Regions from separate parts of the Homo sapiens genome. Here regions 1, 3 and 4 are each linked to region 2. Evidence: fine-mapped expression QTL. A gene starts in region 2. Each other region holds a variant in brackets. All regions are shown on one strand. Distances are from middle to middle. Region 1 has its middle 44 kb from the start of ARMC3. Region 2 holds the start of ARMC3 (armadillo repeat containing 3). Region 3 holds the start of LOC105376451 (a long non-coding RNA gene). Region 4 overlaps LOC105376451 (a long non-coding RNA gene).

Region 1 (8,107 bases), 43 kb before region 2:
ATGCCTCCATTTTCATTTCTAACTGAGCTAATTTGAATCTTCTCTCTTCTTTTCTTAGTTAATCTAGTTAATGGTCTACTGACTTTATCTTTTTATATAAACGACTTTTTATTTCATTGATCTTTTGTATTTTTGTTTCAATTTCATTTAGTTCTCCTCTGACCTTATTTTTTTTCTTCTTATAGCTTTGGGTTTGTTCTTGTTTCTCTGTTTACTTGAGATGTAATGTTAGGTTGTCAATTTGTGATTTTTCAGACTTTTTAATGTAGGTATTTAGTGCTGTTAGCTTTCCTCACAGCACTGCTTTATGCTGTATCTCAGAAGTTTTGATAACTTGTGTCACCATTATCATTCATTTTGAATAACTTTAAAATTTCCATCTTGATTTCATTGTTAACCCAAAAGTCATCTGGGAGCAGATTGACTAATTTCCATGTATTTGCATAATTTTGAGTTTTCCTTTTGGAGTTTGATTTCTGGTTTTTTACTACTGTGGTCTGAGAAGGCACTTGATATGATTTTGATTTTTAAAAATTTATTGAGACAAGCCATGATTAAGATGGCTGAATAGGAACAGCTCTGGTCTGCAGCTCCCAACAAGATCAACACAGAAGATGGGTGATTTCTGCACTTCCGATTGAGGTACCTGGTTCATCTCACTGGGACTGGCTGGACAGTTGGTGCAGCCCACAGAGGGTGAGCCAAAGCAGGGCAGGGTGTCACCTTACCCCGGAAGTGCAAGGGGTCAGGGGATTTCTTTCCTAGCCAAGGGAAGCCGTGACAGACTGTACCTGGGAAAACAGTACACCTCTGCCCAAATACTGTGCTTTCCTCATGGTCTTAGCAACCAGAAGACCAGGAGATACCCTCCCATGCCTGGCTTGGCAGGTCCCATGCCCAGGGGGCCTTGCTCACTGCTAGCACAGCAGTCTGAGATCAACCTGTGAGGCTGCAGCCTGGTGAGGGGAGGGGCGTCCAACATTGCTGAGACTTGAGTAGGTAAACAAAGCAGCTGGGAAGCTCAAACTGGGTGGAGCCCACCACAGCTCAGCAAGGCCTACTGCCTCTATAGACCTCACCTCCGTGGCCAAGGCATAGCTGAACAAAAGGCAGCAGACAACTTCCGCAGACTTAAACATCCCTGTCTGACAGCTCTGAAGACAGCAGTAGTTCTCCCAGCATAGTATTTGAGCTCTGAGAACAGACAGACTGCCTCCTCAAGTGGGTCCCTGACCTCTGTGTAGTTTGGCTGGGAGACACCTCCCAGTAGGGGTCGACAGACACCTCATAAAGGTGGGTGCCCGTCTGGGACGAAGCTTCCAGAGGAAGTATCAGGCAGCAATATTTGCCGTTCTGCAATATTTGCTCTTCTGCAGCCTCCGCTGGTGATACCCAGGCAAAAAGGGTCTGGAGAGGACCTCAAGCAAACTCTAACAGACATGCAGCTGAGGGGCCCAACTGTTAGAAGGAAAACTAACAAACAGAAAGGAATACCATCAACATCAACATAAAGGACATCCACACCAAAACCCCATCTGTAGGTCACCAACTTCAAAGACCAAAGGTAGATAAAACCAGAAAGATCAGGAGAAACCAGAGCAGAAAAGCTGAAAATTCCAGAAACCAGAGTGCCTCTTCTCCTCCAAAGGATTGCAGCTGCTTGCCAGCAACAGAACAAAATTGGATGGAGAATGACTTTGACAAGTTGACAGAAGTAGGCTTCAGAAGGTCATTAATAACAAACTTCTCTGAGCTAAAGGAGCATGTTCTAACCCATTGAAAGGAAGCTAAAAACCTTGAAAAAAGGTTAGATGAATGGCTAACTAGAATAAATAGTGTAGACAAGACCTTAAATGACCGGATGTAGCTGAAAACCATGGCACGACAACTTTGTGACGCATGCACAAGCTTCAATAGTCAATTCAATTAAGTGAAGGAAAGGATATCAGTGACTGAAGATTAAATTAATGAAATAAAGTGAGAAGACAAGATTAGAGAAAAAGAGTAAAAAGAAATGAACAAAGCCTCCAAGAAATATGGGACTCTGTGAAAAGACCAAATCTACATTTGATTGGTGTACCTGAAAGTGATGGGGAGAATGGAATCAAGTTAGAAAACACGCTTCAGGATATTATCCAGGAGAACTTCCCCAACATAGCAAGGCAGGCCAACATTCATATTCAAGAAATACAGAGAATGCCACAAAAATACTCCTCGAGAAGAGCAACTCCAAGACACATAATTGTCAGATTCACCAAAGTTGAAATGAAGGAAAAAATGTTAAGGGCAGACAGAGAAAAAGGTCGGGTTACCCACAAAGGGAAGCCCATCAGACGAACAGCAGATCTCTCAACAGAAACCCTACAAGCCAAAAGAGAGTGGGGGCCAATATTCAACACTCTTAAAGAAAAGAATTTCCAACCCAGAATTTCATATCCAGCCAAACTAACCTTCATAAGTGAAGGAGAAATAAAATTCTTTACAGACAAGCAAATGCTGAGAGATTCTGTCACCACCAGGCCTGCCCTAAAAGAGCTCCTGAAGGAAGCACTAAACATGGAAAGGAATAACCGGTACCAGCCACTGCAAAAACTGTAAATTGTAAAGCCACTGCCAAATTGTAAAGACCATCGAGGCTAGGAAGAAACTGCATCAATTAACAGGCAAAATAACCAGCTAACATCATAATGACAGGCTCAAATTCACACATAACAATATTAACCTTAAATGTAAATGGGCTAAATGCCCCAATTAAAAGACACAGAATGGCAAATTGGATAAAGAGTCAAGACCCGTCAGTGTGCTATATTCAGGAGACCCATCTCAAGTGCAATAATTAATAGCCTACCAACCAAAAAAAGTCCAGGACCAGATGGATTCACAGCCAAATTCTACCAGAGGTACAAAGAGGAGCTGGTACCATTTCTTCTGAAACTATTCCAATCAACAGAAAAAGAGGAAATCCTTCTTAATTCATTTTATGAGGCCAGTATCATTTTGATATCAAAACCTGGCAGAGACACAACAAAAAAAAGAAAAAGAGAATTTTAGATCAATATCCCTGATGAACATCAATGCCAAAATCCTCAATAAAATACTGGCAAACCAAATCCAGCAGCACAACAAAAGTCTTATCCACCACGATCAAGTGGGCTTCATCCCTGGGATGCAAGACTGGTTCAACATATGCAAATCAATAAATGTAATCCATCATATAAACAGTACCAAAGACAAAAACCACATGATTATCTCAATAGATGCAGAAAAGACCTTTGACAAAATTCAACAGCCTTCATGCTAAAAACTCTCAATAAATTAGGTATTGATGGGAAGTATCTCAAAATAATAACAGCTATTTATGACAAACCCGCAGCCAATATCATACTGAATGGGCAAAAACTGGAAGCATTCCCTTTGAAAACTGGCACAAGACAGGGATGCCCTCTCTCACCACTCCTATTCAACATAGTGTTGGAAGTTCTGGCCAGGGCAATCAGGCAGGAGAAAGAAATAAAGGGTATTCAATGAGGAAAAGAGGAAGTCAAATTGTCCCTGTTTGCAGATGACATGATTGTATATCTAAAAAACCTCATTGTCTCAGCCCAAAATCTCCTTAAGCTGATAAGCAACTTCAGCAAAGTCTCAGGATACAAAATCAATGTGCAAAAATCGCAACCATTCCTATACACCAATAACAGACAAACAGAGAGCCAAATCATGAGTGAACTCCCATTCACAATTGCTTCAAAGAGAATAAAATACCTAGGAATCCAACTTACAAGGGATGTGACGGACCTCTTCAAGGAGAACTACAAACCACTGCTCAATGAAATAAGACAGAACACAAACAAATGGAAGAACATTCCATGCTCATGGATAGGAAGAATCAATATCATGAAACTGGCCATACTGCCCAAGGTAATTTATAGATTCAATGCCATCCCCATCGAGCTACCAATGACTTTCTTCACAGAATTGGAAAAAACTACTTTAAAGTTCATATGGAACCAAAAAAGAGCCTGCATGGCCAAGACATTCCTAAGCTAAAGGAATAAAGCTGGAGACATCAAACTACCTGTCTTTAAACTGCACTACAAGGCAACAGTAACCAAAGGAGCATGGTACTGGTACCAAAACAGAGATACAGACCAATGGAACAGAACAGAGGCCTCACAGATAACACCACACATCTACAACTATCTGATCTTTGACAAACCTGATAAAAACAAGAAATGGGGAAAGGATTCCCTATTTAATAAATAGTGCTGGGAAAACTGGCTAG[C/T]CATATGTAGAAAGCTGAAACTGGATCCCTTCCTTTCACTTTATACAAAAATCAACTCAAGATGAATTAAAGTCTTAAATGTAAGTCCTAAAACCATAAAAACCCTAGAAAAAACGCTAGGCAATACAATTGAGGACATAGGCATGGACAAAGACTTCATGACTAAAACACCAAAAGCAATGGCAACAAAACCCCAAATTGACAAATGGGATCTCATTAAACTAAAGAGCTTCTGCACAACAAAAGAAACTACCATCAGAATGAACAGGCAACCTACAGAATGGGAGAAAATTTTTGCAATCTACCCATATGACAAAGGGCTAATATCCAGAATCTACAATGAACTCCAACAAATTTACAAGAAAAAATCAAACAACCCCATTAAGAACCATTAAAAAGTGGGCAAAGGATATGGACAGACACTTCTCAAAAGAAGACATTTATGCAGCCAACAGACACGTGAAAAAATGTTCATCCTCACTGGTCATCAGAGAAATGCAAATCAAAACCACAATGAGATACCATCTCACACCAGTTAGAATGGTGATCATTAAAAAGTCAGGAAACAACAGATGCTAGGGAGGATGTGGAGAAAAAGGAACACTTTTACACTGTTGGGAGTGTAAATTAAAATGCTTTTACACTGTTGGTGGGAGTGTAAACTAGTTCAACCATTGTGGAAGACAGTGTGGCGATTCCTCAAGGATCTAGAACTAGAAATACCATTTTTCCCAACCATCCCATTACTGGGTATATACCCAAAGGATTATAAATCATGCTACTATAAAGACACATGCACACATATGTTTATTGTGACAGTATTCACAATAGCACAGACTTGGAACCAACCCAAATGTCCATCAATGATAGACTGGATTAAGAAAATGTGGCACATATACACCATGGAATATTATGCAGCCATAAAAAAGGATGAGTTCATATCCTTTACAGGGACATGGATGAAGCTGGAAACCATCATTCTCAACAAACTATCACAAGGACAGAAAACTAAACACTGCATGTTCTCACTCATAGGTGGGAGTTGAACAGTGAGAACACGTGGACACAGGGTGGGGAACATCACACACCGGGGCCTCTCGGGGGTAGGGGGCTGGGGGAGGGATCGTATTGGGAGAAATGCCTAGTGTAAATGATGAGTTGATGGGTACAGCAAACCAACATGGCACATGTATACCTACATAACAAACCTGCACATTGTGCACATGTACCCTAGAACTTAAATAAAAAGATTTAAAAAAATTTGGTGGGAGCCAAGATGGCAGAATAGGAACAGCTCCAGTCTACAGCTCCCAGTGTGAACAACGCAGAAGACGAATGATTTCTGCATTTCCAACTGAGGTACAGGGTGCATCTCACTGGGGATTGTTGGACAGGGGGTGCAGGACAATGGGTGCAGTGCACCGAGCCTGAGCCAAAGCAGGGTGAGGCATCACCTCACCAGGGAAGCGCAAGAGGTTGGGGAATTCCCTTTCCTAGCCAAGGAAAGGGGTGATGGATGGCACCTGGAAAGTCGGGTCACTCCCACCCTAACACTGCACTTTTACGACAGTCTTAGCAAACAGCACACCAGGAGATTATATCCCATGCATGGCTTGGAGTGTCCTATGCCTACGGAGCCTTGCTCATTACTAGCACAGCAGTCTGAGATCGAACTGCAAGGTGGCAGCAAGACTGGAAGAGGGGTGCCCACCATTGCCAAGGCTTGAGTAGGTAAACAAAGCGGCCAGGAAGCGCAAACTGGGTGGAGCCCACCGCAGCTCAAGGAGGCGTGCCTGCCTCTGTAGACTCCACCACTGGGGGCAGGGCATAGCCAAACAAAAGGCAGCAGAAACCTCTGCAGACTTAAATGTCCCTGTCTCACAGCTTTGAAGAGAGTAGTGGTTCTCCCAGCACACAGCTTGAGATCTGAGAATGGACAAACTACCTCCTCAAGTGGGTCCCTGACCCCCGAGTAGCCTAACTGGGAGGCACCCCCGAGTAGGGGCAGACTGACACCTCACACGGCCGGGTACTCTTCTAAGACAAAACTTCCAGAGGAACAATCAGGCAGCAACATTTGCTGTTCACCAGTATCTGCTGCTCTGCAGCCTCCGCTGCTGATACACAGGAAAACAGGGTCTGGTGTGGACCTCCAGCAAACTCCAACAGACCTGCAGCTGAGGGTCCTGAATGTTAGAAGGAAAACTAACAAACAGAAAGGACATCGACACCAAAACCCCATCTGTACGTCACCATCATCAAAGACCAAAGGTAGATAAAACCACAAAGATGGGGAAAAAACAGAGAAGAAAAACTGGAAACTCTAAAAATCAGAGCGCCTCTCCTCCTCCAAAGGAACGCAGCTCCTCACCAGCAATGGAACAAAGCTGGATGGAGAATGACTTTAACAAGTTGAGAGAAGGCTTCAGACAATCAAATTACTCCAAGCTAAAGGAGGAAGTTCGAACCATCACAAAGAAGTTAAAAACCTGGAAAAAGATTAGATGAATGGCTAACTAGAATAACCAATGCAGAGAAGTCCTTAAAGGACCTGATGGAGCTGAAAACCATGGCAGGAGAACTATGTGATGAATGCACAAGCCTTAGTAGTGGATTTGATCAACTGGAAGAAAGGGTGTCAGTCATGGAAGATCAAATGAATGAAATGAAGTGAGAAGAGAAGTTTAGAGAAAAAAGAATGAAAAGAAACAAACAAAGCCTCCAAAAAACATGAGATTATGTGAAAAGACCAAATCTACATCTGATTAGTGTACCTGAAAGTGATAGGGAGAATGGAACCAAGTTGGAAAACATTCTGCAGGATATTATCCAGGAGAACTTCCCCAATCTAGCAAGGCAGGCCAACATTCAAATTCACAAAATACAGAGACTGCCACAAAGATACTCCTTGAGAAGAGCAGCTCCAAGACACATAATTGTCAGATTCACCAAAGTTGAAATGAAGGAAAAAATGTTAAGAGCAGCCAGAAAGGTCGCGTTATCCACAAAGGGAAGCCCATCAGACTAACAGCGGATCTCTCGGCAGAAACTCTACAAGCCAGAAGAGAGTGGGGGCCAATATTCAACATTCTTAAAGAATTTTCAACCCAGAATTTCATATCCAGCCAAACTAACCTTCATAAGTGAAGGAGAAATAAAATCCTTTACAGACAAACAAATGCTGAGAGATTTTGTCACCACCAGACTTGCCCTAAAAAGAGCTCCTGAAGGAAGCACTAAACATGGAAAGGAACAACTGGTACCAGCCACTGCAAAAACATGTTAAATTGTAAAGACCATCGAGGCTAGGAAGAAACTGCATCAATTAACGGGCAAAATAACCAGCTAACATCATAATGACAGGCTCAAATTCACACATAACAATATTAACCTTAAATGTAAATGGGCTAAATGCTCCAATTAAAAGACACAGACTGGCAAATTGGATAAAGAGTCAAGAGTCAAGATCCCTCAGTGTGCTGTATTCAGGAAACCTATCTCACGTGCAGAGACACACATAGGCTCAAAATAAAGGGATGGAGGAAGATCTACCAAGCAAATAGAAAACAAAAAAAGGCAGGGGTTGCTATCCTAGTCTCTGATAAAAAACTTTAAACTAACAAAGATCAAAAGAGACAAAGAAAGCCATTACATAATGGTGAAGGGATCAATTCAACAAGAAGAGCTAACCATCCTAAATATATATGCACCCAATACAGGAGCACCCAGATTCATAAAGCAAGTCCTGAGTGACCTACAAAGAGACTTAGACTCCCACACAATAATAATGGGAGATTTTAACACCCCACTGTCAACATTAGACAG
Region 2 (8,107 bases):
TAGAGCCTAGTAATAGATCCACTTACAAAGGGTAAATTTATTTTCGACAAAGATGCCAAAGTAATTCAATACACAAATAGTGTTTTCTTCAAGTGGTACTAGAACATTTGGACATTCATATGCAAAATTGTGATTCTCAAACCATCTCATACCATATACAGCAACTAATGTGACATGGATCATAGACCCAAATATAAGAATCAAAACTGGAAGACTTCTAAAACAAAACATAAAAGGAAGTCTATTTTCTTCCCTTTGGACTAGGCAAAGATTTCTTAGGCAGGGCAAAAGCAAAATGAAATAAAACAAAACAAGGCTAACCTTTGAAACAATGAATGAATTGGACTTCATCAAAACTGAAAGCTTCCGGTGTACAAAATATATTTTTAAGAAACAAAATGATAAGCCACACACTGTCAGAAAATATGTCCAAAATGTATATCTGACAAATGACCTGTATCCAGGATATACAGGGAACTCTTACAACTCAAGAACACAAACAACCCAATTAAAAGTAGGAGAAATATTTGAACAGGCATTTCACAAAAGAAGGTACAGAAATGGCTAATGATCACATAGAATGGGATTATCATCACTATACAGGGAACTCTTACAACTCAAGAACACAAACAACCCAATTAAAAGTAGGAAAAATATTTTAACAGGCATTTCACAAAAGAAGGTACAGAAATGGCTAGTGATCACATAGAATGGGATCATCATCACTAGTCATGAAGGAAATGCAAATTAAACCCAGAGGGAGATACCATTATACTCCCACTAAAATGGCTAAAATTAAAAGGACTGACAACATCAAGTGCTGTAGAACACATGAAGCAATGGCATCTCTCATTTTTGCTGGTGGGAATGCAAATACAGTATAGTTCCTTTGGAAAGCAATTTGGCAGGTTGTTATAACATTATACATACACATGACATAAGACCCAGAAATTCCACTCCTGGGTATTTTCCCAAGAAGAGAGAAACACGTTCACACAACACCCTGTATATTTAACCATATTTATTTATAACAGTCCCAAACTGGAAAGTACCAGAATGTCCATCAATCAGTAAATGGATGTTGTACATCTATGCAGTGCAATACCACTCAGCCATAAAGTGAGATAAGCTATGGATAAATGCAACACCATGGACAAATCTCCTAAACTATGCTAAATTAAAGAAGCCAGACACAAAATACAGCATATTGCATGGTTCTGTTTATAAGACATTCTAGAAAAGCCAAAATGATAGGGAGAGAAAGCAGAGCAGTTGTTCCCAGGGAAGTGAGTTAGAGGGAGAGATTTGACTTCAAAGGGGCATGAGGGAAATTTGGGATGATGGAGATGGTCTCTGAAACTTCCCTGGGGTGATGGTTACACAACTGCAAACCCTTGTCCAAACCCATCCAACTGTATATGTTAAAATAAACATGATCTCCCGCCCAAATTTGACATACTCAGCAAAGACTAAGTCTATAAAACAAGAATTAAAGCAGTAGTTTTAATTATTTCATAAAAACACATCACAAGGGAACATCACACACTGGGGCCTGTCATGGGGTGGGGGGAGGGGAGAGGGATAGCATTAGGAGATATACGTAATGTAAATGACGAGTTAATGGGTGCAGCACACCAACATGGCACATGTATACAAATGTAACAAACCTGCACATTGTGCAGAACTTAAAGTATAATAAAATAAAATAAAATAAATCACAACTTGTTATAACACTATAATTTCAGGATGGGCTGGTATGATATATTGGTGCAGAACATGGATATAAAAGTCAAGCTGACCTTAGTTCAAGTCCTGTCTTTACCATTTACTAGTAGAGTGACCTTCTGCTAATCACCCTGTACTTCATTCAGACCTCACAGGATTACGGTGTGGATTTAATTGTGCACTTTAACCACTTCATAATTGCCAGTCTCATAGTGAGTATTAAAAAAGCTTTAGTTACTTGAAGAACATTTAGAAACAGCCTAGGTGGGGAGACATACATGTCAACAAATACATTACAGTATCATGTGAAAATAACAAATAGAGCAAGTGTAAGGTACAGCTATAGCAACGAATGAGAAATGCTTCCCTCTGTCTGAAGAAGCTAATAAAGACTTTTTGGAGGAAATGATGACTAAGTTAAAATTTGAAAGATGAATAAGTGGTTTTCAGGCTGATTAGGGGAGTGAAGGGCTCAAAATGTCATGGTGTACTTGGAGAATGCTGAGCAGTTTGCTATATTTTTGAACAATGACAGAAGCTATTGTAGTAGGAAGCAGTCAGTCAGAACAAGAAAGATCTTGAGTGTCAATTTAAGAATCTTGTTGCATTTCATCATTTGTGTGTTAGAGCTATTGGAGCCAGCAAGGACACAGACAAATTAAATTTGCATCTTAGAATGATTACTTTGATTGTCTTGGAGAAGATGAATTGAAGCTAGGATGAGTCTAGAGGATGGAAGACCTGCCAGAAGGCTTGTTAGATGAATTCAGGTAAAGGACAGTGACTTTCTGTACTTGGGCTATGGGAATTGGAAGGTGAGAATAAATTCAAGAAACTTTTAGGGGAATCCAATAATTAACTGCATGAAAAGGAGAATAAGTCTAGGATGCCTGTCAGACTTGGTGGTCTGTTTGGGTAGAACACCTGTTGGTACCCCTAGATAAATGGAAAAACATGTCTATACTGGGAAAATGATGAGTTTAGGTGGGTAGTGTTGATGACTGAAGTGCCTGTGGGTATCCAGGTGGAACTGTGTAGCAAGTAGGATATATGGGTCTAGAGTTCAGTACCGGAGTCTGATGAGGAGCTACATATGTGCAATAGTTGAAGTCACAAATATAAATAAGATCACCTAGAAAAGCATATAGTGTGAAAAGAGAACAAGGGACAGATCCCTGGGAAATTTCAACATTTAAGATTCTGTAAAAAAACCACAATAGGGCATATATCCCTATAAAATCCCAGCTACTCAGGAGGCTGAGTCAGGAGGATTCCTTGAGGCCAGGAATTCAAGACAAGCCTGGGCAACATAGATAGACCCTGTTGTATAGAAAAGATCTTAAATGATGGTCATAAAAGAAAGTAGGAGGAAGATCAAGAGCAAGTAGTACCAAGGAAACCAAGAAAAGAGTTTCAAGAATGAGGTGTCATTGAGTATTATATACAGCAGCAATGTCAAGCAAGATGAGGGCTAAGAAGCATCCAATGGATATGGATAGTTTTAGTGCTGGGATGAAAACAGGTCACTATAGTCTGAAGAGTGAATAGGAAGTTAAAAATATGTAAGTATCTAATGCTGGCTACTTTTTTTGAAAAGTCATGACCAAGAAGAGAAAGAAAACAATAGGATAATAGTTAGAAGGAACAACAACATCAAAGGGATTTTATTTGTTTTTGCTTTTTAGATGAGGCATGGGAGGGGCTTCAACATAATTATATACCAACAGGAAAAAACGTGGAAGACAGGGAGAGGCTGAAAATACAGGTGTATATTATTCAAGGTCCAATCATATAACACTTGATGACGCTTATATTCTTGAAACTCCCTCCTTAGTTTCCTTGATGCTACTTGGTCTTAATCCTTTTCCTACTTTCATGACCATTACTTAAGATCTTTTCTATACAGAAGTCACACCGGATATTTGACCATGGAAAACTGAATACAAATAATTGTTATAAAGCTGTTTATCAGGCAATTTAAATGGTGAGAAGAGAACATAAGATATATAAAAGTAGCAATTATAAGAAGCATCTATCATTCTTAGGACTGGGAGACCAACAGGGGCCGGTAGGAGACGGAATTTGCAAAGTCTAAGAGGAGAGGGAGAGACTTTTTGCTAAAGGCAATCAAAAAATATTTTATGAAGATGGCATTTGAGCTGGGCTTAATTAAGTGGAAATGAGAGAATATTTCAGGTATTGCACATGACCTGGGAAATAGAAGCTACTTTATAAATATTTGTTGAAAAATGAAGTGATGAACAGATAAGCAAGAAAATCTAGAGAAAAGTGTGGAAAATTTCGGGAACAGTAAGTTTGGCTGGAGCTTGGATGGTGGAGATCGGTTGAAAATGTGGTTGCACAGATGGAGTAGAGATGGAGCAGACGGTCTTAAATTCCAGGCCAATGTGTTGAAAATTTATCTTAGGAAGCCGCTGACATTTGAGTAGGGAAGTGACAAGACTGGAACGATGATTTCTGGATGGCCGATTTGCCTGTGATACGTAGAAAGAACTGTAAGCAGAGAGCAACTGAATTTCTCAGCCAGAAGGCCAAAAAATGACGAGCTGGATTGAAGTGACAATAAGGATATGAGAAAGGGAACAAGCAGGAAACAAAATGTAAGCCGCCAAGAAGTGGCTGAAGTGATGACTGTGGTTGGGGGGCATGGGAGGAAGAAGGGAAATTGAAGCTCCTTCTGAGTCTAGGCAATTGGAAGAATGGCAGGAAGAGGAAAGAAAGAGGAAGAGAACGGGGCTTTGAAGGGCCATGAGAAGTTCTGTGGAAACGGATTGGACATCCTAGTGCAAAGAGATGTGGCAGTGCAGGTCTGCAGCTTAACGGAGCCTGGGCAGGAGGTGGCTGATGTGGGTTTCATCTGCATAGAGATTCCGGCTGACGCCTCTATTTGGAAGAATGCAATAGTATTTGCGTATTTGAACCCACAGCCAGTCCTTGGGCCAGAAACTGAGGCTGAACTGCCTCTTGATTTACAGCTTCCACCCCCAGTTTCCATTCTCCCCTAAAGCACTGGATTCAGGTAATCGCGGACGCACTTGGCTCCTCCCGCACTGGCCGCTGCCCTCGGCGGGACAATGGGCGCCCTAGCAGCCCCGAGCGTTCCCAGGGCGCAGGCGCGGCGCGGCGTGGCGTCGCCTAGCAACGAGGCACAACAAGGGACTGGGGGTTCGTCTGCTGGGTTTGCGGAGCAGCTAGCTACTCGGCGGGATCTCCCGGCAGGTAAAGGTAACCCCGTGGGGTGGGGAGGCCCAAGGCAGAGGCCTGAGGAAAACCTGGGAAAGGAGAAGGTGCCACGTGGGCGCAGACTGCTTGGGTCAGTGAGGCAACACCTTGCTGGGCGTTGTTAGTTTCTGCCTCGCGCCCGCAGGGTTAGACGGGGCTTGGGGTGGGTTTCGTAAGCATCCCGCCACCTCCCATTCAACAGGTGACAAAACTGAGGCCCGAGAGGGGATCTGAGGTGAGATCAAGTCAGATTCCGTTACTTGACTGTGAGCAACTCAGAAGTGGCCTCGATTTCTTGAGCCCTCCTCCTCTTTAAATCTTCTCAAAGCAGAACTCATTAGAAAATATTTAAAATCATAGGCTGAACGTTCACGAAGAACAAATACAAAGGACCAATCAACTCGTGAAAAAAAAAATGGCTCCAGTAGTCAAGAAGATGCATTTTTAGAGCAGAGTTGTTTGCATATCCAATGCCCTGAAGTTTTCACCCAGTTAATTTACTGCTAGAGATTTATCCTAAAGAAATAGTTGGGGATAATGGATGAAAATTTTATGTCCAAGGACGTTCTTTCAGCCCTGTCCATATTTCCAGAAAATTAGAAACAAATTTCAACAATCAGAGACTGGCTAGATAGCTAAGGGATTTTAAAATATTTGTAATGGCATGTTATGCTAATCCACTGGAGATTATTAAAGCAATGAAGGGAAACTGAGACTTCATGAATTTATTTGTTAATATAAGAATTTAGTAGGAATATGAACCCAGGAAGGGAAGGTGAAAGTAGGGGATAGAAGTTGAGGCAGGATGTTAAAATCACTTTAGAAAAACACACAAAGCCAGGTACGGTGGCTCACGCCTACAACCCCAGCACTTTGGGAGGCTGAGGCGGGTGGATCGCCTGAAGTCAGGAGTTCGAGACCAACCTGGTCAATGTGGGGAAACCTGTCTCTACTGAAAATACAAAAATTAGCCGAGCGTGGTGGCGGGTACCTGTAATCCCAGCTACTCAGGAGGCTGAGGCAGGAGAATCTCTTAAACCTGGGAGGTGGAGGTTGCAATGAGCCAAGATCAGGCCACTCTCCAGCCTGGGCAACAGAGTGAGACTCTGTCTCAAAAAAGAAAAAGAAAAAGAAAAAAAGAGAAGAGAGAGAGAGAGGGAGAGAGAGAGAGAGAAAGAGAGAGAGAAAGAGAAAGAAAAAGAAAAAGAAAGGAAAGGAAAGGAAAGGAAAGGAAAAGAAAAGAAATAGTATTGATCTCTCTGAGCTTATCTTTGGGTGATTTTTATTTTATTCGTTGTGCCCTTGTTTTCCAAATTCTCCACAGTGAAATGTATTACCCTTGTAAGGATCATCTCCATAGCTCATTGCCACCGACCTATGTCAGCTGTTCAGTCTCTCCTCCATTAACTATCATACCCAATATGGTGATAAAACACATAGGCTTTTTTTGGGGGAGGAGACAGAGTCTCGCTCTGTCACCCAGGCTGGAGTGCAATGGGGTGATCTCAGCTTATTGCAACCTCCGCCTCCCGGCCTCAAGCAATTCTCCTGCCTCAGCCTCCCCAGTAGCTGGGAATGCAGGCACATGCCACCGCCACTCCAGGCTAATTTTTGTATTTTTAGTAGAGACAGAGTTTTGCCATGTTGTCCAGGCTGGTCTTGAGCTCCTGACCTCAGGTGATCCACCCGCCTCAGCCTCCCAAAGTGCTGGGATTACAGGAGTGAGCCACCACGCCGGGCCATGATAAAACACATAGGCTTTTAACTTCATTCTTTAGCTTAGGAGACACTCTATCATTGCAATACTGTCTGTGTAAGCTCTTCTAACCTCTGCACTATGCAATTGCTCAAAAACACTATCCTGAAGTAGGAAAAATTAGTTCCTAAGTGAAAATCAGATGATTTAAAACAACTTTATGCAGGTGTAATTAAATTGCTTCCTGAATATTATTCATAAGCAATTATTTTATAAATCAAAGGCTGCTCTGTCTTGGAATTGGTTATAGAGTGCTATAAACTCTCTCTTTTTTTTTTCCTAGAGATTAATTGTAGGATAGATTCTCATTTGCCCAGAATAGTTTCTGCCTCTCTGCCTGAAATATTATAGGCACAAGGTCTAGGGCCTGTTCACTTTTCAAGCACCTAAGGAAGATGTTTGAGATTTGAAAAAAATGCTTATATTGGCTCTAAAATATGAAAAGAGAACTGAAAAATTAGTGTTAATTAAATGTTTTATTAATATAAATTTTTATTACATTTGAAAACAATTTTCTCATTTTACAAGAATTTCCAGGTGTATGTACTGATTGCTGAGTAATTTCAAATACAAATTTCAAAAGTTTTTATGATGCAAATGACATTTAATGGGCGATGCAGGCACATTTTAACATTTTAATATATTGGCTATTGTGTGAATAAGCTTGCCCAGGCCCTCCAAAGTCTTAAAAGTAGTGTGGTCTGAAGTTAGAGACCTAGAATAAATGCCTTTCAGAAGTATCTAGGAGTTTCTATGAAGACGTGGCTTTTTAATGTATGTGATAAATTCTGGTCAGTGTCTCTAATGCTAGGAGTTGCTTTTGACCCTTGACATGCAATTTGAGCTAACCCTGACACTGTAGATTCTCCCCAAGGATTTTCTACTTCCTAGGATTTCTACTGAGACTATGGTAATTTCCTTAAGGCTATGATATACCGTTTAAGATTGCTCCTACGATATACCGTTTAAGATGGCCCTGATGTCAAACATAATTCCACAAACTCTCACTGAAGAAAACTAGATAGATTTCCTGGGTTATTCTAATAGACATTAACATCTTGAAAAGTTTCTTTTTTTTTTTTGAGACAGTCTCACTCTGTTGCCCAGGCTGGAATGCAGTGGTGCGATCTCGGCTCACTGCAGCCTCCGCCTCCCGGGTTCAAGTGATTCTTGTGCCTCAGCCTCCTGAGTAGCTGGGACTACAAGGCACGTGCCACCACACCCGGCTAATTTTTGTATTTTTAGTAGAGACAGGATTTCACTGTGTTGGCCAGGATGGTCTTGAACTCCTGACCTCGTGATTCGCCCACCTCGGCCTCCCAAAGAGCTGGGATTACAGGCGTGAGCCACCTGCCCGGCCTGAAAAGTTCTTTGAACCCAGGC
Region 3 (8,107 bases), 72 kb before region 2:
TCAAAAAAAAAAAGCAGCAGCAGGCACCGCATGGCAGAATCCAGGATCCAACCAGATTGAGTGCGGTCATCACCTCATGGCAGGATCCAATCAGCTCATGCCTCCTGGCATCACCTCATTGTGAGATCCAATCAGATCACACCTCATTACCCTATGCTTATAAAACCTGCCTCAGCACCTAGCTCCAGGAGACAAACTTGAGCATTTCCTCCTGTCTCCTTGTGAGTTAAATGACAATAAAGCTTTTCTTTTCTCAAAAGCTGGTGCCATCATATTGGCCTCTGTGTGCATCAGGCAGCAAGCCCATTGATTGCGTGGCAACAATTTGACAATCAGAGCCACAAGAGAAGTCTTTGCTAGAAAACTGACATTTCCAAATAGAGGGAACAACACGAGACAGGTCCTGTGGCATGAAGAAGCATGACCTAAACGGCCACCAAGGGCATCTATCTCAGGAAATAGCAGGATAAAGAATTTTCTCTTTATTCTTAGAGCAATGGAAGCTGTTGAATAGTTTTAGCAGAAGAGCTGCGTTCTCAGAATTATGTTTCTAAAAGATCACTCTGGCTTCTGAGTGGAGGAGAAGGGTAAAGTATGGTTACAGGATGAGTAGTGTGGTGGTCTAAGCTGTGGCAGGAAGAAGCAACTGACATTATACAGGCTGGGACTGATGGTTGCCTGGGTTAGTGTGGAGATGGATTTGAGAGGTATTTAGGAGGTAAAATGAGCAGGACAAGGTGTTAGAATCAATAGTGGGTGAGAGAGACAGGGAGGTTATGGATGATGCCTAGATACCTGGCTTGTAGAACAGGAAAGATGGTAGTATCTTGTGCTGAAATAAGAGAGGTAGAAGAAGAGCATGGATTGGAAGGTGGGAAGATGCGTGATTTAGGTAGGAACTTTTGCTGTGCCTTTGTGATGTCTGCATGGAGATGACAGGTTGACAGGTGGACAGATGGGTCGGAGGCGCCGATGGAATGTCTGGTCTAGAGATATGCATTTGTGAGTCATCTGTGCAAGTTTGTCATTGCTAAGAATGCCTAAGAAAAGCACGTGGAGTGAGGAAAAGTTCTGGCATAACATGGTGGATATTTAATGGCCAGGTTTGTACAAAGGAAATGGGGTAGCCAGAGAGATGAGGGCAAGACAAAAAAGTCCTGCACCACCAGAGCCTGGCAAAGAGTGTTCTGAACAATCCCAGAGTCCTTCTGTTACAGCTTCAATGTTCTTTGTGTTGTAGATGGCAAAGTTTCTGCTGAGTTTGAGGAAGAAGGGGCAGATGCGTGTGTTTGTGTGTGCATGTGGTGTGAGAGTGGCTGTCACCAAAGGAGGGGAGAAGCTCTGTAGAAGTTTTGATGGAAAGTAGGAGAGTGAGTTAATCAAAATATGTAGTAAGAGGGTCCATCTGAGATTCATTTTTTTTTTTTTTTTTGAGACAGGGTCTCACTCTGTTGCCCAGGCTGGAGTGCAGTAGTGCAATCTGGGCTCACTGCAACTAATGCCTCCCAAGTTCAAGCGATTCTCCTGCCTCAGCCTCCTGAGTAGCTGGGATTACAGGCATGCTGCACCAGCATGCCCATCTAATTTTTGTATTTTTAATAGAGACAGGGTTTCACCATGTTGGCCAGGCTGGTCTCAAACTCCTGACCTCAAGTGATCAGCCCACCTCAGCCTCTCAAAGTTCTGGGATTACAGGCATAAGCCACCGCACTCGGCCCTGAGATTCATTTTTATGCATTTACAATAAAGCCAGTCTGCTCCATTGCGTGCCTTTCTTCAGAAGAGTTCAGCTGCTGGGGGTTGGAATGCAAATAGCTGGATTCATTAGGGGTGAGAGTTTGCCAGAAGAGGGAAACAAACAAAAAAAGCTCAAAGGGCAAGGGAATATAGAGTATTGGCAAAAGGGCTATCAACTTGCTGAACCCTTGGCATCTGCCAGATGAGGAGGATGTGCAGACGGGACAAGGTCAAGGCACTGAGAGACTGAGGATGGAGCTGCAAGCCTGAAATCCTGATGGGGCTGAGGAATGGCCTCAGTGGAAGGAGCTGAGTCAGCCAGGGCAAGGGGAAGTAGTGATGCTCAGAGGACATTTGCTTCAGTGACTCTGCAAGTGGGGGACTGGGGAGTGACAGGAAGACCCAATGTGTGTGCACTAGGATGGATGATTTGAGTGGAGTGGAAGAGCTATTGCAGATGAGAACTTGAGGAATCAGAGGCCATTTGGTACAGCGGAACGCCATGTGTTTGTTGAATTTATTGGGCAGGATGGTGGGACTTTGAGTCCACATGCTAAGACTTTGACAAATGGCTGGGAAGGGAGTGACCAGGAATTGGCTAGAAGAAAATAACAGGAAGGAGTGGTTGAGCTGAAAACCACGAAGTCCAAAAAAGCAAGAATTTTTGCAAGAGGGAACAATAGTAGTGGATGCAAGTGGAACAAGGAGCAAAGACGATGGCAGCCCACCTCCATAATAGGGTGCATGTGAGAGAGAAAGGCATTCCCGGGCAATTGGAAGGAGTGTCTTCTGAGAAGAGACAGCTTTCGGCTGACGCAAGATGCATGAAGGAAGCTCAGGAAGAGCAGAGGAGGTGGGAGAGTTTCTCTGATGGCAGAGGGGAAGGGGTTGGGAGGCAACTCGGTGCCTAGAAGTGCAGCATTCTTGTTACAAACACAGACAGGAGAATATGGTAGTCCCCTCTTATCCTCATGAGATGTGTTCCAAGACCCCCATTGGATGCCTGAAACCATGGATGGTACCAGATCCTATAGATATTGTTTTTTCCTATACCTACATACCTATGATACAGTTTAATTGATAAAGTAGGCACAGTAAGAGATTAATAACAGTAACTCATAATAAGATAGAATGATTCTAAAAATATACTGCAGTAAAAGTTGTGGGAATGTGGTCTCTCTCTCCAAATATTTTACTGTTCTGTGCTCACCCTTCTTGTGATGATGTGGGATACCACAATGCCTTTGTGATGAGATGCAGTGAGGTAAATGATACAGACATTGTGACGTAGGGTTGGGCTACTATTGACTTTCTGACGATTAGGAGGACCATCTGCTTCAGGTGAACCTGGATCATCGAACCATAATTGATGGCAGTGACTGAATGTCAGGAGCAGATGCTATTGATGACTAATGGGTGGGTAGTACAATGTGGATCCACTGGACAAAGGGATGATTCATGTCCCAGGTGGGATGGGGCGGGACAATTCAAGATTTTATCACCCTTCTCAGAATGCTACCCAGTTTAAAACTTATAATTTGTTTCTTTCTGGAATTTTCTGTTTAATATTTTTGGACTGTGGTTGACCTCGGGTAACTGAAACCACAAAAAGTAAAGCTGTAGATAAGGGAGGACACTATAACAAACTGTAGACCAGGAAGAAGAAAGATGCCTGAAAAATAATAATGGAATGAAGAAAAATAAATCGTTAGGCAGTAATCCCTACCAATATAAAGTCAAATCAGACCAAGAAGATCAGGCCCTCCAGGAGGCCTCTGACCCCTAAGCAAATGGCTTTCAATTTAGAGCAGAGTTTGTTCAAACTGGGGTTTGAACTCTATTTTTAGACAATTCTCTTAACATGTAACCCCAAATATTTATATTATAGCTAAAAAGATTGTACCCTGGTGAAAAAAATAGCTGAATTTAAATACACATATATACATACATACACACATATTTACACACATACACAATCTTGCCAATTAAAGATGCCAATTTAATCAACTCTTGGCTTTCTCTTCATAATGAACAATCTCGAGCCCTTACTTTTTTGCAGAAGTCCCATTTTCTAATCCTGGTTGACTTTAGGGATAGAATGTTCTCCAAGTTCTCCATGCCCCTTAATTCTAGAACTCAGGAATGGACACCCTGCTCCTAGAAAAGTTTGACTAGTACCATGTATAATGGGAGGGTGATCTCATGGTTCCTCTGGGGACTTGGTTTTACATCCTGGCACTGTTCAGTCTTTAAAAAGCTGCTGTTATGACTGACTCCAGCTTATCTATTTTCATTGCTGGCTCGTTTTAAGACATCCTTCCCTGTAGCCAGTCACATCTTATCTTCTATTTGTATACTTCACTTCCCTCTCCTGGAGGGACTCCTACCCTGCATTTATCTTCAGCAAACTTTAAAAAGCATCCTGACCACTGTTCTAATTTAGTAGGGTTATTTTAAACTTTGCTCTTCACCAGCGGGCTGAGG[C/G]TGGTCTTCCCACTCCTCCATTGAAGCAGTGACTAATGTGCTCTGAGTTTCCTTCATGCCAACGCTGTGTTTGGGGATGTCTGTTTGCAAACATTTCAGCCTGAATTTTTCTCTGCTACTCCTGCGGCCTCCCTGTGCTGGGAGCACTTCTGTGGAGGTCAGGCCTTGGTCAGTGTCGATCCTTGTTCCTTTTGGCCTTTATCAGTTAAGAGAATCAGCTGGGTGCAGTGGCTCACACCTATAATCCCAGCACTTTGGGAGGCCAAGGTGGCTGATTCACTTCAGGTCAGGAGTTCAAGACCAGCCTGGCCAACATAGTGAACCCTCGTCCGTACTAAAAATACAAAAATTAGCTGGGCATGGTGGTGTGTGCCTATAGTCCCAACTACTTGGGAGGCTGAGGCAGGAAAATTGCTTGAACCCAGGAGGCAGAGGTTGCAGTGAGCTGAGATCATGCCACTGCACTCCAGCCTGGGCAACAGAGGAAAAAAAAAAAGAGAATAAATTCCCTAATATTTCAAACCTTAGGTCAAACGTCTGTAGATGTTAATGTTGAGGAGGACTATTTCTAAATTAACACACAGACAACAAGAACTTAATCTTTTAGATCCAAAATCAGCACCCGTACTATTATTATTTTTTTGGTTCTTTTATATATTATATATCCCAGAGACTATGTCTGTTTTGTACTGCAAGAGCCGGTGAAATGTCTATCCTTTTTTTTTTTTTTAAATAGACAGGACCTTGTTCTGTTGCCCAGGTTGGAGTGCAGTGGAATGATCACAGGTCACTGCTGCCTTGAACTCCTTGGCCCAGGTGATCCTCCCGCCTCAGCCTCCCAAACAGCTGGGACTGCAGGCATGTGCTGCCATGTCCAGCAAATTTTTAAATTTGGTGTCAAGACAGGGTCTCGCTATGTTGCCCAGGCTGGTCTTGAACTTGTGGCCTCCAGCAATTCTCCTGCCCCAGCCTTTGGAGTAGCTGGTACTACAGGAGCACCATTGCACCTGCCTGGTCGTAATTTTTAACTCAACCATTCCAGAGGGTAAGAGTATCATTAAATAGTGAAAGAAAGAATGAACGCAAAGTCAGAAAATGCAGGAAAGGATGCACAGAGGCAGCTACAAATCCTCCCTCAAGCCAGGACTAATCCCTTCCTGTCCAAGTTCCAATGGCTGATGCTTCATCTTTCTTCCTTTCCTCTGGTCTACATGATTTCTCTGTAAATGTTGTTACAAGCATTTGCATCTAAATCTTGTTTTCTCTATGAAACTACAAACCTGCAGAGGGAAGTTCCTGATGGTTGCTAATCTATCTCTATTTCACTCACAGTATTTTACCTAATGTCTTAAAACAGTCAGTGCTCAATAAAGATTGGTCACAGCGGCTCATGTGTGCCATCTCATCTCAATGCTTTGGGAGGCCAGGCAGGAGAATCGCCTGGGCCCAGGAGAGCCAGACCAGCTTGGGCAAGAGAGTAGGACATTGTTTTTTGAAGGAAAAAAAAAAAAAAAAAATGAGCCAAGCTTGGTACACACCTGTAGTCCCCACTGTGTGGGAGTCTGAGGTGGGAGGATCACTTGAGCCTAGGAGGAGGAGGCTGCAGTGAGCTATGATTGTGCCACTGAACTCCAGCCTGAGTAACAGAGTGAGACCTTGTCTCAAAAAAAAAAAAAAAAGAAAAGAAAAAATTTGGCTGGGTGCAGTGGCTCATGCCTGCAATGCCAGCACTTTGGGAAGGTGGGGTGGGCATATCATTTGAGGTCAGCAGTTTGAGGCCAGTCTGGCCAACATGGTGAAAACCCCCCTCTACTAAAAATACAGAAACTAGCTGGGCGTGGGGGCATACACTTGTAATCCTAGCTACTGGAGAGGCTGAGACAGAAGACTCGCTTGAAACCAGGAGGTGGAGGTTGCAGTGAGCTGAGATTGCACCACTGCACTCCAGCCTGGGCGACAGAGCCAGGCTCCATCTGAAAAAAAAAAAAAAAAAAAAAAAAAAGTTGACTGAGTGAACAATGAAAGAACACATGCAATTTAAGAAAGTTTAGTCCCAAGTTGATTTACTGTTTTGGCAAAGTAATTTAATTTTAATCGAATTCTCTTCTAATTCAAAACTTTAATTGATTTAAATAATAATAAGATGAAAAATAACCAATTTGAAATCTAGAGACACAGACTGGCAAATTGGATAAAGAGTCAAGACCCATCAGTGCGCTGTATTCAGGAATCCCATCTCACGTGCAGAGACACACATAGGCTCAAAATAAAGGGATGGAGGAAGATCTACCAAGCAAATGGAAAACAAAAAAAGGCAGGGGTTGCAATCCTAGTCTCTGATAAAACAGACTTTAAACCAACAAAGATCAAAAGAGGCAAAGAAGGCCATTACATAATGGTAAAGGGATCAATTCAACAAGAAGAGCTAACTATCCTAAATATATATGCACCCAATACAGGAGCACCCAGATTCATAAAGCAAGTCCTGAGTGACCTACAAAGAGACTTAGACTCCCACACAATAATAATGGTAGACTTTAACACCCCACTGTCAACATTAGACAGATCAACGAGACAGAAAGTTAACAAGGATATCCAGGAATTGAACTCAGCTCTGCACCAAGCGGACCTAATAGACATCTACAGAACTCTCCACCCCAAATCAACAGAATATACATTCTTTTCAGCACCACACCACACCTATTCCAAAATTGACCACATAGTTGGAAGTAAAGCACTCCTCAGCAAATGTAAAAGAACACAAATTATAACAAACTGTCTCTCAGACCACAGTGCAATCAAACTAGAACTCAGGACTAAGAAACTCACTCAAAACCACTCAACTACATGGAAACTGAACAACCTGCTCCTGAATGACTACTGGGTACATAACGAAATGAAGGCAGAAATAAAGATGTTCTTTGAAACCAATGAGAACAAAGACAAAACATACCAGAATCTCTGGGACACATTCAAAGCAGTGTGTAGAGGGAAATTTATAGCACTAAATGCCCACAAGAGAAAGCAGGAAAGATCAAAAATTGACACCCTAACGTCACAATTAAAAGAACTAGAGAAGCAAGAGCAAACACATTCAAAAGCTAGCAGAAGGCAAGAAATAACTAAGATCAGAGCAGAACTGAAGGAAATAAAGACACAAGAAACCCTACAAAAAATTAATGAATCCAGGAGCTGGTTTTTTGAAAAGATCAGCAAAATTGATAGACCGCTAGCAAGACTAATAAAGAAGAAAAGAGAGAAGAATCAAATAGATGCAATAAAAAATGATAAAGGGGATATCACCACCGATCCCACAGAAATACAAACTACCATCAGAGAATACTACAAACACCTCTACGCAAATAAACTAGAAAATCTAGAAGAAATGGATAAATTCCTCGACACATAGACTCTCCCAAGACTAAACCAGGAAGAAGTTGAATCTCTGAATAGACCAATAACAGGATCTGAAATTGAGGCAATAATTAATAGCCTGCCAACCAAAAAAAATCCAGGACCAGATGGATTCACAGCCGAATTCTACCAGAGGTATAAGGAGGAGCTGGTACCATTCCTTCTGAAACTATTCCAATCAATAGAAAAAGAGGGAATCCTCCCTAACTCATTTTATGAGGCCAGCATCATCCTGATACCAAAGCCTGGCAGCGACAGCACCAAAAAAGAGAATTTTAGACCAATATCCTTGATGAACACTGATGCAAAAATCCTCAATAAAATACTGGCAAACCGAATCCAGCAGCATATCAAAAAGCTTATCCACCATGATCAAGTTGGCTTCATCCTTGGGATGCAAGGCTGGTTCAACATACACAAATCAATAAATGTAATCCAGCATATAAACAGAACCAAAGACAAAAAACACATG
Region 4 (8,107 bases), 59 kb before region 2:
GTCAGGGAGCATGTGAATACTCTCTGTGCATAACACAATCAGGGTATTTCTTTGCAAGAAATAAAGACAAAATGATGTAAATGAAAAAAAAATGAACTTGTTCACTTGCCCCAGCACATCCTAAATCTGTAGGCACTCAAACCCCTTCAGTCAAGAACTGCATAAACTTTCATGGATTCCTGTATGTATTTGCTTCAGAGCAGATACTGTGAGGTGGGATAGTTGGGGAAGGTGCATTCCTGTTCCCCTCTGACAATGATGGGCAGGGGCAACAAGTCCGTCCTGTCTATGGGCAGCAAAGCCCATCTACATGAGAGAAATGAAGTAACTGGAGAAATGAAAAGATCTTTCCTACAAATTTCCTCTCCCCAGGACAGAGCTAGAGCTACATATGATGAGTCCAAAAGAAGCCATCCATTCATAGGTGTCACATACATGTAAAAGTACAATATGTATATAAATATACACATTTACATATACAGATCTATTGTAAGAAATTGACTTACATGATTACAGAGGCAAAGAAGTTCCAAGATCTGTACTTGGCAAGCTGGAGACCAGGGAGAGCTGATGGCATAGTCTTGGTGCAAGTCCAAAGGCCTGAGAACCAGGAGAGCTGATAGAGTAAGTTCCAGTCTGAAAGCCAGCTGGCTTGAAACTCAAGAAGAGCTGATGTTTCAGTTTGAGTCTGAAGGCGAGAAAAAGACCCATGTTCCAACTCAAGCAGTCAGGCAGGAGGAGCCCTCTCTTACTCAGCCTCTTTGTTTTGTTCAGTCTTCAATTGATTGGATGGGGTCCACTCGCATTAGGGAGGATATACTGCTTTGCTAGGTCTACCAATTCAAATGCTAATCTCATCTGGAAACACGTTCACAGACACACCCAGAATAATGTTTGACCAAATGTCTGGGCACCCGGTGGCCCAGTCAAGTTGATACATAAAATTAACCTAATGTATGCTGAGGGGCTAGCTAACAAATGCCTGGAACAGATGCCTTTTGGGTTGATACAAGAAAAATAGACTTTAAATTCTCAACCTAAGAGGCTCTAAAAATTAACTAGTTAGCATTATGTAACTATAGGTATTTCATCAGTCTATCTGCTGTTTCCTGTAATCAGAGAAATTTCCAAAGAATTCAGATGGGCTTTACAAGTAGAAAAGGAGGAATCCTATGATTCACATACTGGAAATATCTTGATATAAGTATGGTAGCTCATCTTCTAGATTAGGTTGTTGATGTGTTTTGTGAGATGTAAATGAACTAGAATTCCCTTCTGATATCACCAGTACCATCTTCCTTTACCATTCAGATCAAATATTAAACTCGGGTTGATGACTTTCATGACTTCCAGAAAATGTACCATTCATTTTCATTCCTCCTCTCTCCCTGATTTGACAGTCTCATTTCTTTCCTCCATCTCTTATCTTCCCCAGTCTTTTTGTTCTGAATATTATAGTTAAGTTGAATATCAACTAAAATTTGTTAGACAGTGTTGCTACTTTCAAAGAATGTTTGTCCTATAAATGTTGAATCTTTGAGTATTTCCAATGACTGTTGAATGTAAAATGGTTAGTGTTACATATAAAAAGAACAAAAATTTTGAGAGGCCAAGGCAGGAGGATCACTTGAGGCCAGGAGTATGAGACCAGCCTGGGCAATATAACAAGACCCTGTCTCTACAAAATAAAAAAAAAAAAAGAAATTAGTCAGGAATAGTCCTAACTACTCAGGAGACTGAGGCGAGAGAAATGCTTATGCCCAGGAGTTCGAGGTTGCAGTAAGCTAAGATTGTACCACTGCACTCCAGCCTGGGCGACAGAGTGAGACCTTGTCTCTAAAAAAGCAAAAACAAAAACAAAATGCTCTCACTGCAAACCCCTTGCAGTGAAATAATTCATTTTAGAGTGAGGATTAGAATCTCTGCAAATGGGAGAATGCTTAAAGGCAATTGCTGTGATTCGTCCTTCACTCTTGCTTACTGTGCCCAATTTTCTTAAACTTCCATTGATAGATGTTTCCCCGGTGACTGTCATGGAAGAAATGGTAATTTTCCTAAGCCTACTTAAGCACTTCTAGTCTTGACTTGAGTCTAACACTTTTGGGACAAATTTTGATTTTTCTAGAAATAGTATGTAACTAGTTTCAAGGTTTGCCAATAACTGGGATATACATCAAATACTGTGTATCTATGATTATGCTTTTGTTAGTGTGCTATTACATAATTAGCAAATTTTAGATTCCTATAATAGTCAAAAGAGCGCATATTTTAATAATGTGCCTATGATATGGCCCACAGAATATCATAATTCTTAAAGAGATACTTGCCTTTGTGCTCTTTCAAAATTTATACAGTGAAAAGTCAGCTCCTCTGGCTTCTCAGCTGTAAACCACTTAACAAATCCAGAGTGAATTTTAAAAATGCCCACCCTTCTTTCTGAAGAGCCTGCTATAGTGCCAGATTCTGCTGATGGAAGAATGTTTTTCACAGCTTGAATACAAATTACGGAAAAGTACACAACAGAAAGCAGAAATATTAGACAAAGGGGAAGACTCTAAACCCAAGAAAGGTTCTTTCCCTTTGCCGTGGTGGTTCTGCACTCATGACTGACTGAATTGAAACTTTTCAGATTTGCCCATTATTTTTATTTTTTTATTTTTATCTTTTTTAGAGATAGCGTCTTGCTCTGTCACCCAGGCTGGAATGCAGTGGCGTAATCATAGCCCACCGTAACCTTGAACTTCTGGGCTCAAGTGATCCCCTCGCCTTAGCCTCCCAAGTAGCTAGGACTACTCCTGGCTAATTTTTATTTTGCAAAGATAGAGTCTTACTGTGTTGCCCAGGCTGGTCTCGAACTCCTGAGCTTAAGTGATCTTCCTGTCTTGACCTCCCAAAGTACTGGGATTACAGGCATGAGCTACTGTGCCTGGCTAGATTTGTTCATTTTAGAAGTGTTACTTTTACTATTTTCAACTTGAAAACATTTTACACTATTCACAGTTAATTAAAAAAAAAAGTCACGTATAATGTGTATATATTTAAGCCAACTTTACAAATCAAGATTGGTAATTATTCTTTTTCCCCCTAGAATATAAAATATTCTGTGATATTGCTATAGGAATTGAAAATATCCATCAGGTGTGAGTGTGTGAGGCCAGGATCTACAGTAACTAACTTCACACCCAGTCTAGTGGGAGAGTTAGAGACATTAGGACCATGCTGTTCAAAAGAAGATAATGAGAGCCACATACATAATTTCTAATTTCCTAGCAGCCACATTAACAAAGGCAAAAAGAAACAATTGAAATTTAAAAAATGTATTTGATTTAACCCAATATATCTGTACTATATGGTTTCAACATATAATCTATATAAAAATTATTAATAAAATATTTTACATTTGTTCATACTCTGTCTTTAAAATCTAGTGTGCATGTTATGCTTATAGCACACCTC[A/G]GTTTGGATTAGCCACATCTCAAGTACTCAATAGCTACATGTGGTTGGTGGGTACCATATTGGATAACACCAATTGGATTGGACACAATCTGCTTCTTAGACTTTTGTTAGACAAATTAGATGATGGATTTTTTGTTTTGTTTTGTTTTGTTTTTTGAGACGGAGTCTTGCTCTGTCACCCAGGCTGGAGTACAGTAGCGTAATCTCAGCTCACTGTAACCTCTGCCTCCTAGGTTTAAGCCATTCTCCTGCCTCAGCCTCCTGAGTAGCTTGGACTACAGGCACCTGCCACCAAGCCCAGCTAATTTTTGTATTTTTAGTAGAGACGGGGTTTCACCATGTTGGCCAGACTGGTCTTGAACTCCCAACCTGAAGTGATCCACCCACCTCAGCCTCCCAAAGTGCTGGTATTACAGGTGTGAGCCACCGCGCCCAGCCAGATGATGGATTTTTAAAATGTGAACCTTTTACTGATGCATAAAAATATACAGAATAATGCATAAATAATAAGTGCATTTTGATGAGTTTTCACGAAGAACATAGCTGCTTAACTAGACCCCAGATCATGAGATGGAACATTAACAGAGGCTCCCTTGTGTTCCCATTACATTTTCTTTTGATATCACAAATATCAAGACCTTGCTTTTCTTGCCTCCCACTCTATAAAGCAGACTCACTTATACATTAGGTTGGTGTGAAAGTAATTGGTGCACATTGAAAGCCAGTGCTTTGGTTTTCAGGGCAGTTCCAATCCTGGTCATGAATCTGCATTATGGATCTTCACAAATTGAAGAAACCCTCAAGGGGCCACGCCGGGAAAGGCAAGTTGAAAGAGAAGGACATCCCTGACTACTTAATAAACTGGATGTGTGTGTATTTCTCTTGGCTCTCATTTAGTTTCGAATATAGGGTGATGTAATTCAAATACCTTCTGAATCTGCTTTCTTTCTCCATGTGGTCATTAAATATGAGTGGAGTAAGAATGAGAAAATAACTCTCAGTTATATCAACTTCTATGGGATGTTGCAAAGCTGTGATCATTTTTGATCAAGCAAAGTTTTCTCTTGGCCAAAGAAGAACTGGGTATACAACATACACTCTATAAGTACAGTGCATGGCTAGGAGGGTGAGAGATGGAGCAAACATCCAAGCATTTCATATATTTTTCTAAAAAAAAATTTTGGAAAAGAAACTCAGGTTTATAGATGTAGCGTCTTTCCAGAGCTGCAGAAAGGGTGAGAGGCCGGCATGCGGTGGCTCATGCCTGTAATCCCAGCACTTTGGGAGGCACTTTGGTGGATCACCTGAGGTCAGGAGTTCGAGACCAGCCTGGCCAACATGGTGAAACGCTGTCTCTACTAAAAATACAAAATTAGCTGGGTGTGGTGGTGGGCATCTGTAATCCCAGCCATTTGGGAGGCTGAGGCAGGAGAATCACTTGAACCTAGGAGGCATAAGTTGCAGTGAGCTGAGATCCTGCCATTGCACTCCAGCCTGGGCAAAAAGAGTGAAACATTTCAAAAAAAAAAAAAAAAGGGTGAGAGGGAGTTAAGCATGAATGCAGGAAAGCACACTTTGCCAAGCTAGAGATGAAATCGCACACCTCCCTGCCATTCCCTTCAGAAGCCTTCTCCTAGGAGGGGAGAGTCCATGACTTCAAGGCCCTTCCTCCGCAGAGAGCTGTGCAACAGCAGCACAGATCAGCATGGCTCCCCCAGGAAGCAGAATGCCTCGTTCCTGCTGTGACTGCAATGGCTCCCTCTTTCTCTCTCTTTCTGCCCTGTCCTTCCTTGTGGGGTGCCTTTCTTTGAGGGCAAAAGTGTCTTGGATATTTTCAAGCACCCGAAAGATGAACGACATCACAAGGGTGGGTCTGCCACATAGCTATTTAAGTGGTTAAAGATAGAAAATGATATTGGCTAAAAAAAACCCAGTCTCTGCATAGCTTAGTGACTGTGATGGTTAAAATTGAGTGTCAACTTGATTGGATTGAAGGATGCAAAGTATTGGTCTTGGGAGTGGCTATGAGGGTGTCTCCAAAGGAGATTAACATTTGAGTCAGTGGACTGGGAGAGGCAGACCCACTCTCAGTCTGGGTGGGTACCATTTAATCACCTGCCAGCACAGCTAGGATAAAGCAGGCAGAAGAATATGGAAGGACTTGACTTGCTGAGTCTTCTGGCCTCCATCTTTCTCCTGTGCTGGATGCTTCCCGGCTTCGAACATCAGACTCCAAGTTCATCAGCTTCTGGACTCTTGGACTTACACCAGTGGTTTGCCAGGGGCTCTCGGGCCTTCGGCCACAGACTGAAGGTTGCACTGTCAGCGTTCCTACTTCTGAGGTTTTGGGACTTGGACTGGCTTCCCTGCTCCTCATCTTGCAGATGGCTTATTGTGGGACTTCACCTTGTGATCGCATGAGTCAATTCTCCTAATAAACTCCCCTTCATATATACATCTATCCTATTAGTTCTGTCCCTCTAGAGAACCCTAATACAGTGACTATTTCATCACACCTTATTCTGAAGAGAGCCACATCCTTTGGTGTTGAGGGTAGGCTGAGTATTCCCTGTTCCATCATTTGTTCTATCTCACAGGATAGGATTGAACCCCTGACATATCTGAACGCCATGACAAACTGTGATATTATGCAGTCTCACAGCTCAGCAGGGAAATGGGCTGGCAACACTAGATGAGTCAAGGGATTAAAGCTTTCCAATTCCCATATTTTAGTTAAAAAAAAAACAGTAACTATATAAAAAATTAAAAAACAAAAACAAACTGAAAAGAAAATCTGACATATGGAAAAGTGTATCATAGGGATAGACCATGGGCAATTGCACATAGGTAGTTCATAGAGCTGGCTGATTATCACAATCATTCATTGTATTTTGAAGTCTTGCATCGCAATGAGTAGTTTTTTGTTTTTTTTTTTATTTAATTGGGCATGGCTTTCCTTGGTGAGTATGTTCGCATTGATTTTCTTTTTTTTTTTTTTGAGAGGGAGTCTCGCTCACCTGGGCTGGAGTACAGTGGCACTATCTCGGCTCACTGCAAACTCCACCTCCCAGGTTCACACCATTCTCCTGCCTCAGCCTCCCGAGTAGCTGGGACTACAGGCGCCCGCTATCATGCCTGGCTAATTTTTTGTATTTTTAGTAGAGACGGGGTTTCACCATGTTAGCCAGGATGGTCTTGATCTCCTGACCTCATGATCCGCCTGCCTTGGCCTCCCAAAGTGCTGGGATTACAGGCGTGAGCCACCACGCCTGGCCCACGTTGATTTTCTATGTGGTGTTGCTCTTTTTGAAATTCTTCCATTATTTGATATACATGGAAATGAGCATTCCCTATTCCGCCTAACATAATGCAACCATCTTGTGACTGTGATTTTCAGGGTTTTATCTAATTAATTAATTTTTTGGAGACAGGATCTTGCTCTGTTACCCAGGCAGGAGTGCAGTAGCGTGATTACAGTTCACTCCACTTCTACCTCCCAGCCTCAAGCCATCCTCCCTCCTTCACCCTCCAGAGTAGCTGGAACTGCAGGCACGTACCACCACACCTGGCTATTTTTGTATTTTTTTGTAGAGGTGGGGTTTATGTGGCCCAGGCTTGTCTCAAGCTCCTGGGCTCAAGCAATACTCCCACCTCAGCCTCCCAAAGTGCTGGGATTATAGGCATGAGCCATGGCGCCTGGACTTATTTTCAGGATTTTATATGTTAGAGAATTAATGTATACTTTAGGGATTTTGATCTTTTGGGATTTACACATTAAGCATTATGGCTTTTGGCATTGTGTCTTCCAGGATTATAATCCAAACCTGAAAAATACTTTGAAGTTTTACTTTCTCTGGGTCTTCCACCTACCTTCTGCCCAATGGTAGCCTTTACTCCCTGGTAACGCTCTAAAGTGTTGCTGAGTTTGAGCAAACGTGGTAGATAAAGTTGTACCAGAGCTTCTCTTGGTGCACATTTTCTGCCTATGTGAAATCACCCTCATAGAGTTAACAAGAATTGCATGCCAGGTTCTGGACAGAAATATAATACTTACAATTAAACATTCCTCAGACTGCACTCTGCCCCACTTTCTTGTAGCTGCTTAATAAACATAAATCTAGTGTGCATATCAGGCTTACAGCACACCTCAATTTGGACTAGCCACATCTCACTAGATACTGACCATTTGCGTTCTCACTGATACTAGATACTAAATTCTCATTGTTTCTATAGCTAGACTCTCTGACATTAGAATCCTAAGGATTTTGTTGCAGAATTGCTTAAGATGTTTTTCAGATCCTGAATTCCAGCAAAATGGGTGGTGCCAACCAGTTTGAAGAACCCCACAGAGGAACGGAATCAACATGAGAATACAGTTTCTTCATCTATCTTGTGACTTCATCCTACACTCTTCAACCTAACAACCATCTCTACACCTCAGCCCGCTACTTGTCCAAGCCTCTTAAAATCCCTATCCCTAGACTCCTCCGGGAGGCAGATTTGAGGTTTCCCCCCATCTCTTTCATTTGTCTGCCTTATGATTAAACCTCTTTCTCTGCTGCAACCTAGTGTCTTAGTGTATTTGCTTGCCATGGGAGGACTAAGCTCTGAGTTTTTTCATTTTGCCCAAATTCTTGTCTAAGAGGTCTGG

Evidence for each region. PIP is the estimated chance that this variant, and not a neighbour inherited with it, causes the effect.
Region 1: its variant is fine-mapped to the expression of ARMC3 in whole blood (INTERVAL, PIP above 0.99).
Region 3: its variant is fine-mapped to the expression of ARMC3 in whole blood (TOPMed, PIP above 0.99). The same link has a PIP of 0.9 or more in blood mononuclear cells.
Region 4: its variant is fine-mapped to the expression of ARMC3 in whole blood (INTERVAL, PIP 0.99).

The regions. Positions count from the first base shown.
Region 1 is chr10:22,880,109-22,888,215 of GRCh38, forward strand. No RefSeq gene overlaps it. Among named protein-coding and RNA genes, the nearest start is that of ARMC3, 44 kb to the right of the region's middle. The variant C/T (reference allele first, on the strand shown) is at 4,283.
Region 2 is chr10:22,923,142-22,931,248 of GRCh38, forward strand. ARMC3 (armadillo repeat containing 3) reads left to right here and starts at 4,912. Exons shown (of 19, transcript NM_173081.5): 1 at 4,912-4,965.
Region 3 is chr10:22,851,066-22,859,172 of GRCh38, forward strand. LOC105376451 (a long non-coding RNA gene) reads left to right here and starts at 3,035. Exons shown (of 3, transcript XR_930749.3): 1 at 3,035-3,153. The variant C/G (reference allele first, on the strand shown) is at 4,222.
Region 4 is chr10:22,863,893-22,871,999 of GRCh38, forward strand. It overlaps LOC105376451 (a long non-coding RNA gene), which reads left to right. Exons shown (of 3, transcript XR_930749.3): 2 at 517-624; 3 at 4,197-4,332. Among named protein-coding and RNA genes, the nearest start is that of ARMC3, 60 kb to the right of the region's middle. The variant A/G (reference allele first, on the strand shown) is at 3,457.